Linked DNA regions of Homo sapiens: region 1 is linked to region 2. The links come from fine-mapping of genetic effects on gene expression. A gene starts in region 2. The other region holds a variant in brackets. All regions are shown on one strand. Distances are from middle to middle.

Evidence for each region. PIP is the estimated chance that this variant, and not a neighbour inherited with it, causes the effect.
Region 1: its variant is the best candidate, but not a certain one, in a credible set for the expression of DNM1 in whole blood (TOPMed, PIP 0.79).

The regions. Positions count from the first base shown.
Region 1 is chr9:128,140,161-128,145,160 of GRCh38, reverse strand. No RefSeq gene overlaps it. Among named protein-coding and RNA genes, the nearest start is that of LCN2, 6.8 kb to the left of the region's middle. RefSeq lists a cis regulatory region at 2,862-3,035. The variant A/G (reference allele first, on the strand shown) is at 1,963.
Region 2 is chr9:128,200,099-128,205,610 of GRCh38, reverse strand. DNM1 (dynamin 1) reads right to left here and starts at 2,232. Exons shown (of 22, transcript NM_004408.4): 1 at 1,980-2,232. The coding sequence starts at 2,140. It also overlaps a transcript of CIZ1 not described here. RefSeq lists enhancers at 446-1,018, 2,450-2,549 and silencers at 1,307-1,601, 2,170-2,389.

The sequences.
Region 1 (5,000 bases), 60 kb after region 2:
GTGGACGTCAAGGCTCTGAGCAGGGTCTAGGGTGGACACAGGCAGCGGCAGGCAGTGGTGGATGCCAGGCTCCCATGGAGCTGGGCCGCAGTCCCTCTGTCATAGGCCTCTGTCCCACATGGTCCTGGTGCTGCTCAAAACCAATGCTCCTCCCAGCTCTGCACCCCTCCTGCCCGGACTGCAGCCCCCAGCACCCCAGGAAAGGGGCATCTCCACTGCGGCCACCCCTGCGTTACCCCACATGCTCCCGTGCTCCCTGCTCTCCAGGTCCTTGGCTGGGCCTCCGCTGGCACCATCAGAGGTGGCTGGGTGAGAGGACCGGTCTGGCTCTCCTGAAAGCTGGTTCTCCCGAGAGCCCAGGACAGTCCAGGAGCGTGCCCAGCCCAGGGGGCAGGGTAATAGGTTCCGGAAGGGTCAAATGAGACCAAATGTCCCTGAAGACATCCCTGGCTTCAGAACCACAACACACAGCCTCCTGCCTGGAGCCCCTCTGGTGCCCTGCGGGGGCTGAGGATGGAACAGGCTGCAGCCTCTATGCCCTCCACTTCATCCCAGTGGTGGATGGACATCGCAGACCCAGCCCCCACTCCTCCTTGGCAGCACGTGTTTATTTCAGCTGAGGGGGTGGGTTCCATGGCTGAGCCTCCCTCTTTGGGGGAGGGGGACATGAACAAGGCTGTGACAGGCAGCGAGGACCAGATCTCGCTCCAAAGGGAAAGCGTGTCCACCTTCAAAAGGAGGGGACAACTTGGACCAGTGCAGAGTTGGGTGAGGGGAAGGGAGGGCAGTGCCAGCGGCAGAGCAGCAGGAGATGCCGAGAACACCCAGAGACCTTGGCCTTCACCTGGCCACTGTCCTTCTCAGCCCGATTCTCAGAGGGCCCAGGTCAGAGGTCTGAGGGGGAAGTGTGAGTTTCTGGGTACAAAGTTTGGTGGCCCAGACCTTGGGCCGGAGGGAGGACCACTCCCTGCCCTGTCCTGTGACTCTCAGAATCACCTGTCAGGAGGGGGAGCCCTCTGCATTGCCATGATGGGCAGGCCCAAGGCTGCAGGGCACAGGTCTGGGTGCCTCTCCCTGGGCCCAGACTCCCTCAGGCCTTGGGTGGGCACTGGCCTCTCCCAGGTCACTGCAGTCCCAAGCGCCCCTCCCTGGGAGCTCAGCCTGGATCTGCCCCAACTGAAGCGTCTCGTGGTTCTCCAGGTTCTGCCTACAATCCGAGGTCCCCCTGTCCTGGGCCACCTCCCCACACCACTGGGTCCCACCTCTTCCTGACACTCTTGGGTCCCCTGTCCTGAACTACCTCCTCCCACACTGCTGGGTTCCCTTGATTCAGGTCCCTTCCTTCCCATACCTCCGGGGCCCCTGGCTTGGCCACCTCTTCCCCACATCCGCAGGCCACACCCTTGGCTTTCTCTCAAGAGTTCACTTTCTTAACAGTGAATTTCCTATTGTTAGCATCTTCTGCAATCTAGAGAAGCTGAGAATTTCCCAAATCATCAAATTACTACAGCAAATTACCACAAAGTTGCAGTGAGCTGTTATCACACCACTGCACTCCAGCCTCAGTGACAGAGCGAGACCCTATCTCAAACAAACAAACAAACAAACAACATCCAAAAGGAATGAGAAAATTCTTGCCCTTCAGGAGAGGAAAAACATCTGGGCCACACCACCACCACCAACAACAAAAAATAGCTTATGTGTCATTTGCCTTTGAGTAATATACATACGTCATTCATTCACCTTAAAAATCAGGCATTAGGTACTGTAACAAATGTGCACCAAGAAAAGAACAGGCATTAGGATGTTAACCATTATGAAATTAAAAAAAATAATAAAGAATAAGATCCTTAATCATTTGCAAATACTTTTTTTTTTTTTTTTTTTTTGAGACGGAGTCTCGCTGTTAGCTAGGCTGCAATGGCGCGATCTTGCCTCACTGCAATCTCCGCTTCCTGGTTC[A/G]AGCGATTCTCCCACCTCAGCCTCCCGAGTAGCTGGGACTACAGGTGTGTGCCACCATGCTTGGCTAATTTTTGTATTTTTAGTAGAGATGCACTTTCACCATGTTGGCCAAGCTGGTCTCGAACTCCTGGCCTCAAGTGATCTGCCCACCTCAGCCTCCCAAACAAAGTGCTGGGATTACAGGTATGAGCCACCATGCCCAGCCTTTGAAACCTTTTTCTACATAAAGTTACATTTACATTATTCATTTACATGGATATATTTTGGGGGCCATTTTGCAGCCAGCATAGTCTCCTTGACCCCATAGACCCCTTCTCCCCACACCCCAGATTCCTCTTGTCCTGGGCCACCTGCACTACAGACCTCTTCACAAAGGGACTTGGACTCTTCTCAGGAGGGGACCCGGGTCATGGGCAGCCCCGCCTGTGTAGACAGCTGCAGCTGGGCTGCTCAGAGAGCCCCCAGCCCAGGGCTGAAGAGCTTCAGGGCTCAGCTGTGTCCCAGGCAGGTGCTGGGGCTGGGGGGTGGGAGCCTGGCCCTTCTCCCTCCCACTGTCTCCTTCTCTTCTTTTTTTTTTTTTTTTTTTTTTGAGACTGAGTCTAGCTGTGTTGCCCAGGCTGGAGTGCAATGGCGTGACCTCAGCTCACTGCAACGTCCGCCCAGATTCAAGCAATTCTCGTGCCTCAGCCTTCCTGAGTAGGTGGGATTACAGGTGCATTCCACCACGCCCGGCTAATTTTTGTGTTTTTGGAAGAGCTGGGCATTGTACCATGTTGGCCAGGCTGGTCTCCAACTCCTGACCTCAAGTGATCCTCCTTCCTCCACCTCCCAAAGTGCTGGGATTATAGGCATGAGCCACCGTGCACAGCCTGTCTCCTCCTCTTCCTGCCTCCCCACACCCTGCCTCATCCCCTTCCTGTGTAGCTCAGGGTACATACAGGCACCGAAGTGCACATCCAATGTGTCCCCGCCTACTAAATGTGCTGTGAGCATTACAAGCCACCCAGAGGGCCTTGCCTCCTAAGCAAAGGCCTCAAAGGTCCTTCCTTCCTGACCTGAGTCTCTCTCCTTCTAACTAATTATCCTCACTAGGAGCAGGCACTAGGAGAGAGCCGCTTCTCTGCCTCCTGCCCAAAGAGGGCCATTTCAGAGAACCACAGTAGAGGAGGAGCTGACTGCCAGCCTTGGAGCTTGTGGACTGGGGTCCAACTATTGCCAAGAAAAGTCTAAAGGTGAGGGATGGGCTGGATCTGCTCTTGCTGGTCAGTGGAGAGGAGGCTGCCCAAGGTCTACCACTCCCCAAGGGCAGGCAGGGGTGTCTGGTCTTCCTGTGGCCCAAGCGAACCTTGGGGAAGATCCATTCAAAAGCAATCCTGGCTGAACAGGAGTCTGGAAACTTTGAAGACCTCCTTCTACCAGACAACAGGATCCAGTAAGAAACAGACTCTGAGGCCGGGCATGGTGGCTCATGCTTGTAATCCCAACACTTTGGGAGGCTGAGGCAGGCGGATCACCTGAGGTCAGAAGTTCCAAGACCAGCATGGCCAACATGGTGAAACCCCATCTCTACTAAAAATACAAAAATTGGCTGGGTGTCATGGTGCACACCTGTAATCCTAGCTACTCAGGAGGCTGAGGCAAGAGAATCACTTGAACTCGGGAGGCGGAGGTTGCCGTGAGCCAAGATCGTGCCACTGCACTCCAGCCTGGGTGACACAGCAAGACCCTGTCTCAAAAAATCATAAAATAAAATATGTTTAAAAAGAAGGAAAGAAAGAAAACAATCAGGAGAAGAAATCAAGAAGAGAGAAAGATCTTCCTATTTTATGGGACTATCGAAGCCAAAAGTTGACTCTTGGAAAAGACTAATCGAATAGAAATTTGGAGAAATTTCTCATGACAAAAAGATATAAGACACAAATAAACAACCATAGAAATAAAAAAGGAGGCCGGACGCCATGGCTGACTCCTGTAATCCCAGCACTTTGGGAGGCCGAGGTGGGTGGATCACAGGGTCAGGAGATCGAGACCATCCTGGCTAACACGGTGAAACCCCGTCTCTACTAAAAATACAAAAAATCAGCTGGGCGTGGTCGCGGGCGCCTGTAGTCCCAGCTACTGGGGAGGCTGAGGCAGAAGAATGGCGTGAACCCGGGAGGCGGAACTTGCAGTAAGCTGAGATCGCGACACTGCACTCCAGCCTGGGCGACAGGGCCAGACTCCATCTCAAAAAAAAAAAAAAAAAAAAAAAAAGAAATAAAAAGGGAGCAGAACTATAGAGTTCTAGAGCTATTAAAAAGGTAACGAAAGAATGCAATAAATAAGGAAATGGGAAATTTCCCAGAAAACTATAACTTACAAAAGAGATTCAAGAAGAAAAAAAACATCTGACTTCTGGCAGCCCCAGCCCTGGGGCTACCCGATCTGACAAAGCCTTTTCCATTGTATGCGTCAGAGAGAGAAAAGATGGCAGCTGGACTTTTAACCCAAACTGTGGGGCCCTGGCTGAGGCCGGTGGCCTAAGTCTCTAAACAACTAGACAGGGTTTCTAAAGGATGGCCCCCCTGTTTGAGGGCCTTGGCAGAACTGCCCTGCTAGTACAAGAAGTAAATAAGCTGACTCTTGGGCAAAACCTGAACATAAAGGCCCCCCATGCTGTGGTGACTGAGAGCCAGCCCCTCTTCCCCCGCTGGCTCTTAGGATCCGCGGTGGACTCACAGCCTGTTTACCATATTGTGAGTAAGATCATCTCCCCCTCTGGAGATTATGAACTGTTTCACAGACGGGTGTACACCCTCGGTGTACAGAGGGTGTACACCCGTCTGTATTGGGAGTAATATCATCCTCTTCCTCCCTGAATATTAAGAACAGTATCACAGGGGTGTTTCTACTCCCTGCGATATCGCGTGTCATATCCTCCTCTCCCACGTTGCAATTAGAAACAATATGAGTGGGGGCGTGTCCACCTTCTGTCATATTGACAGTCATATCATCTTCTTCCCTCCAGCATCGTGGGAGCAATATCCCTGGGGGGTGTC
Region 2 (5,512 bases):
TGGAGGCCCACCCACCCACACGTCCCTGTGCCTGGTGCAGGACCCGGCTGTCAGAGGATGTGCAGCGTCGAGATTAGGAATTGGGCTTTGGAGTCTAACAGCTGCTGCCCTTTCTGAATGTGTGACCTTGGGCAAGGCATCTAACCTCCAGGGTCTCAGTTTCCTCATCTGTAGGATGGGCATCATGGTACCTGCCTCTTGGGAGCTCCTGTGAGCCTATGAAGGACTCAGCATAGGGGGATGCATGGGATGGGCTCAGTAGATGCGGGCTGAAATCACCAGTTGGTCCCCTCCCTACCCCAAGCCTGAAGCACGCAGCCTGGCATGGGGCAGGAGTTCAGCCAACATTCAAAGGACGAGAGGTAGGAATATGGTTTCTCCATTCTAAACTGCTGGATATCCCTGACTGCTGGCCCTTGGGGAAGGGGCCCGTGGTGTGTCTCTTGCCTGTGTCTCTGCAGCTCCGGGGGTCATGTGATCAGAAGGGGGGCTCTGCAGGAGCCATTGGAGAGACAGATGCCTTCCCCTCTGCTGACCAGATGGGCACGGCCGCCCCCACGGTGGCCTTCCAACGTCCCACACACACATGGCTCCAGTCAGGCCCTCTCCCTCTCACCTCTAGGGCTGGCATGGGTTTCCCAGGACATTTGAGGGGCAGGAACAACCACCCAGTCCCACTGTCCATGTTAGAGATGGGGACACTGAGGCTCAGAGAGGGCAAGTGACTTGCCTGAGGTTTTGCAGCAGAACCTGGCTTGGACAGAACTGCTGTACCTCTGCGGACAAGGGCCCCTGCCTCCCTCTCCCATGTGCCAGTCACTTTTTTGGCCCTGAAGGTCATTGGAAGAAAGCAAGAGTTTCTGAAGAAGATGGGGGGGAGATGAAAGACGGGGTCAGTGTAAACTCTCTCACTTCATCCCCCAGTCTGCCCAGCCCCCCAACCCACCTCCAGTACCTGGAGAGCTCCTATCTTTCTTCTCTCTCCTCAGCACCAGAAAAACTATTTCTGCCTCCCTTTGGGGGTTTGTGGGGAGCCTGCGGGTCACGACCCTGCCTGCCCCGCTAAACCCACGACCCTTTGTCTTTGCGGTTGTTCCTCTCTCCGCCACCTAGGCCTCTCAGCGCCTTGTGGGATCAGAGGCGGGAGGGGGATTAGGTTCTGCAAATGGCTCCCCCCTCCCGCCATCCCTGTCTTAGTCATCTCTGCCCTCTGCCGCCTCTCCCTCCAACACGATTCCTCTGGCCAGGCCAAGGGGAGGGCGACACTGACAGGCGCCCCCCACCCAGGGGCCGTGGCGAAGCAAGGGGCCGGCTGCTCAGAAAAGGATAAGAAGTGGTTTCTCCTCCCCTCTTCCCTTCCTCATCCTGCAGCCCGCGCCTCCCCCCTCGCCGCGCTGCGCACGGATGGCGGCGGGAGCCGCAGAGGTGTGTGTGTGCTGGCGGGAGGCCGTGCCCGGTCCTCGATGCCCGCGGGACTACGTCCTCTTCTAGGGACTGGGATGCGGGGGCTGACCTCTGCCACGGCCCAGGAATTCCCATGGGGGTAGGGGGATGTCCCCCATTGAGCCCGGTGTGGGGGACGCTGCCCCCGGGTGCTGCCCGCTCCAAGGGACTCCCGGAGCCCAACGGAGACGCTGAGTAATGCGGGCTCTCTCCATGCCCATGTTGGGGGCGGGGGGCAGCTCTTTGCCCGGGGCTTCTGGCAGAGCGTTGTCTGCCCTAAAGGATGGGACGGAGGAGGGGGCGTGATTCGGTAGCCGGAGGCTTGACGACGTTTGCAGACTAGCGGGGGGCGCTGCTGCCCCGAGGGGCTCTCGTGGTGGGGGGAGGGCCTCCTCGCTCCGGCTGGGGGTGGGGGGCGCGCCGGCCGCGGGTGCAGCGTCGGGGGCTGCGAGGTCGCCGCGCCGTCAGTGCCCCGGGCGGGGACTCCAGGGATCCCGGGGGTCGGGGGTCGGCGCCTGGGGGCGCGCCGCGCCTACCTGCCTACGAAATTCTCGAGCACCGAGCTCTTGCCGGCGCTCTGGCCGCCCACCACAGCGATCTGCGGCAGGTCGAGGTCCGCGTTCTGGCCGATGGCAGAGAAGGCGTCTTGCAGCCGGTTGACCAGCGGGATGAGATCTTCCATGCCGCGGTTGCCCATGGCTGCGGCGGGCCCCGCAGGCTGCGATCCGGCTGCCGCTAGCGCTCCCGGCTCCGACTCCGGCTCCGCCGCTGCAGCCGCGCGCCCAGACTGCCTGCGCCGCGGGGCCCCCGCCCCTCGGGGATCGGAGCGAGCACCGCTCCCGGACGCCGCTAGGGGGAGCCCGCGGCGCTGCGGGCCGGCCGCCGTGCGCAGGCGCCGTCCGGGGCATCATGGGTGTCGTAGTTTTCACCTTCTGCGGCTTTTGGGGTGCTTTAGCAGTGTCTGGGGTGCGCGGATGCTGCGCAGAATATATTTGTCAATGGGTTGGGTCTCACTCCTAGTACCAGGCCTCTTGGAGAGTGGTCTGGATGTTTCACTCCATCTTACCGATGAGGAAACAGGCCTGGAGAGCAGATGGGCTTCCTCTGAGGTCACAGCCTCCTGACCTCAGAGGTCAGAACTCCGAGATGAGTTCCCCTTCATCTCGCTGGCTTCTATCCCTAGATCCTGACTCTGATCTCCAACATGTCCTCTTCTGCCTTTGGTCCTCAGTTTCCTTGTTTCTAGAAGGAGAAAGTTGGAACATGAATTCAACAAATATTTACTAGGTACCTGCTAGAAGCCAGGCCCTGTCCTAGGCACTGAAGATTCAGCAACGAATAAGACAGCCAAGGCCTCTGCCCTCATAGATCTTGCATCAAGCTGGGGAGACAGACAGTAAATAAGTAAGCAGATAAATGAAATAGTAAAAATGAAAATAATTCATAGTAAGAGGGATGGAGGAAATAAACAGGGTGAAAAAAGGTATCTTTGTGGGTGTGGAAAGTTCACATTGGCTTGGCAGGAGTCGGGGGTGTTCTCTGCAGAAGTGACATTTGAGAAGAGACCAAAATGATGAGAAGGAGCCAGCAGCAAGCAGATCAGGGGAAGAGCATGCCAGGCTGAATGACCAGCAAGTGCAGAGGCCCTGACACCTGGAGGGCCCTTCTTGGGAGAGTTGGAAGCTCTTGTCCTAGAGAGTGGAAGTCTTTGCTCCAACCCATCAGGATGGTGGTAAAACAGCGTAAAACAGTGGGATTCAAATCCAGGGCTCCTACAATCCTACCCTGCGTACCCTTTCACACAGACAGACCATGGGGCCCTGAGCCCAGCCGTCCATCTCTGCATTTAAGAAACCTAATTAGTATTCACGGTGGAGGCTAGGAAGGGAAGGCTAGCCTACACTGTGCTCATGGGGAGTCGGTGAGTCATTTCCCTGCGCTGTGAACAGTGTGGGGGCACTGCTGACAAAGTGGTCTGTGAATTGGAGACTGTTCACTTACTCATCCATTTAATGCGTATTTGTTGAGCCAGGTACTATGCTAGACTCCAGAGATAAAGCAGTGAGCAAAACGGACAAAGTCCTTACCCACATGTGGCTGACAATTCAGTGGAAAAAGACAGACAATATGCAAATAGGGCAATAACGATGGCCCTGTTAGATGGCGTGCCCTGCAGAGCAAGAAAGCAGGGGCGGGGTAGGGTGGTGTTGCTATTGTGAAGATGGTGATCAGAGAGTGACCCTTGTGGGGAGGAATCTTCGAGGCAGGCATGGGGAACAAGCAGGCCCTCTCCCTGGTAGCACCAGAGAGTGGATTAGGAGTCTAATCTGGGCCTTAAACAAGCTGCGTGACCCAGGTCCCTCCACGTCTCTGAACCTCAGTTAACTAATCTGGATAATGGGGATAATAATAGATCAAATGCCTGTGTAGGGCACAGCCCAGGCCTAGTGCTCAGGGGGCCCTTATTAAGCTGCAGCTGTGAGGATGCCAATGATAACAGCTCACCAGACAGCTGGAGCATCAGTGCCACACAACTTGCATGGAACCTGGCAGCTGTTCCATGCCAACCTGTTATTATGCTCTGAGGACAAGAGAAGGCAGAGATGGAAGCCTGGATGACTGGCACCAGGAGGGGGTGCAGTTTATAGATGTTTGCCTAGAGGGCATCATGGCTGGGCTTTTAATATTATTTATTTACTTATTTATTTTATTTATTTTTGAGACGGAGTCTCACTCTGTCGCCAGGCTGGAGTGCAGTGGCATGATCTCAGCTCACTGCAACCTCTGCCTCCTGGGTTCAAGCGATTCTCCTGCCTCAGCCTCCCGAGTAGCTGGGACTACAGGCACGTGCCACCACTCCTAGCTAATTTTTGTATTTTTTGTTTGTTTGTTTGTTTTTTGAGACGGAATCTCGCTCTGTTACCCAGGCTAGAGTGCAGTGGTGCGATCTTGGCTCACTGCAACCTCCACCTCCTGGGTTCAAGCAATTCTCCTGCCTCAGCCTCCCAAGTAGCTGGGACTACAGGCTCGTGCCACCACGCCCGGCTAATGTTTTGTATTTTTAGTAGAGATAGGGTTTCACCGTGTTAGCCAGGATGGTTTCCATCTCCTGACCTTGTGATCTGCCTGCCTCTGCCTCCCAAAGTGCTGGGATTACAGGTGTGAACCACTGCGCCCGGCCAATTTTTGTATTTTTAGTAGAGATAGGGTTTCACCATGTCGGCCGGGATGGTCTCGATCTCTTGACCTTGTGATCCTCCTGCCTCAGCCTCCCAAAGTGTTGGGATTACGGGAATGAGCCACTGTGCCCAGCCTATTTATTTATTTATTTGAGACGTAGTCTCGCTCTGTCTCCCAGGCTGGAGTGCAGTGTCGTGATCTCAGCTCACTGCAACCTCCGCCTCCCAAGTTCAGGTGATTCTCCTGCCTCAGCCTCCAAAGTAGCTGGGACTACAGGCATGCACCACCACGCCCAGCTAATTTTTTGTATTTCTTTCTTTTTTTTTTTTTGAGACAGAGTCTTGCTCTGTCGCTCAGGTTAGAGTGCAGTGGTGTGATCTCAGCTCACTGCAACCTCTCCCTCCCTGGTTCAAGGAATTCTCCTGCCTCAGCCTCCTGAGTAGCTGGGATTACAGGTGCTCGCCACTGTGCCCAGCTAATTTTTGTATTTTTAGTAGAGACGGGGTTTCATCATCTTGGCCAGGCTGGTCTCAAACTCCTGACCTCATGATCTGTCCGCCTCAGCCTCCCAAAATGCTGGGATTATAGCTGTGAGCCACCATGCCCAGCCAGCTTTTATTATTTTTACTTTTTCCCCCCTAATTACAATATTGAAACTTATTGTAAAACCAGACTTTACACAAGTATTTGAAAACCTCTGGTCATCCTCCCACCTAGAGATAACCACTATAGCTTAGGGATCGTTCTCTGGCTTTGTTTTTCATATATGCACATATTCATTTTGTTCCATTTTGTTTTTACAGAAATGGGATTATACTAAGTATCCTATACTGCTGTATCACTGATGCCAGGCCAGCAGCCTGGCATCACATGGAGTTGGTTGAAAAGA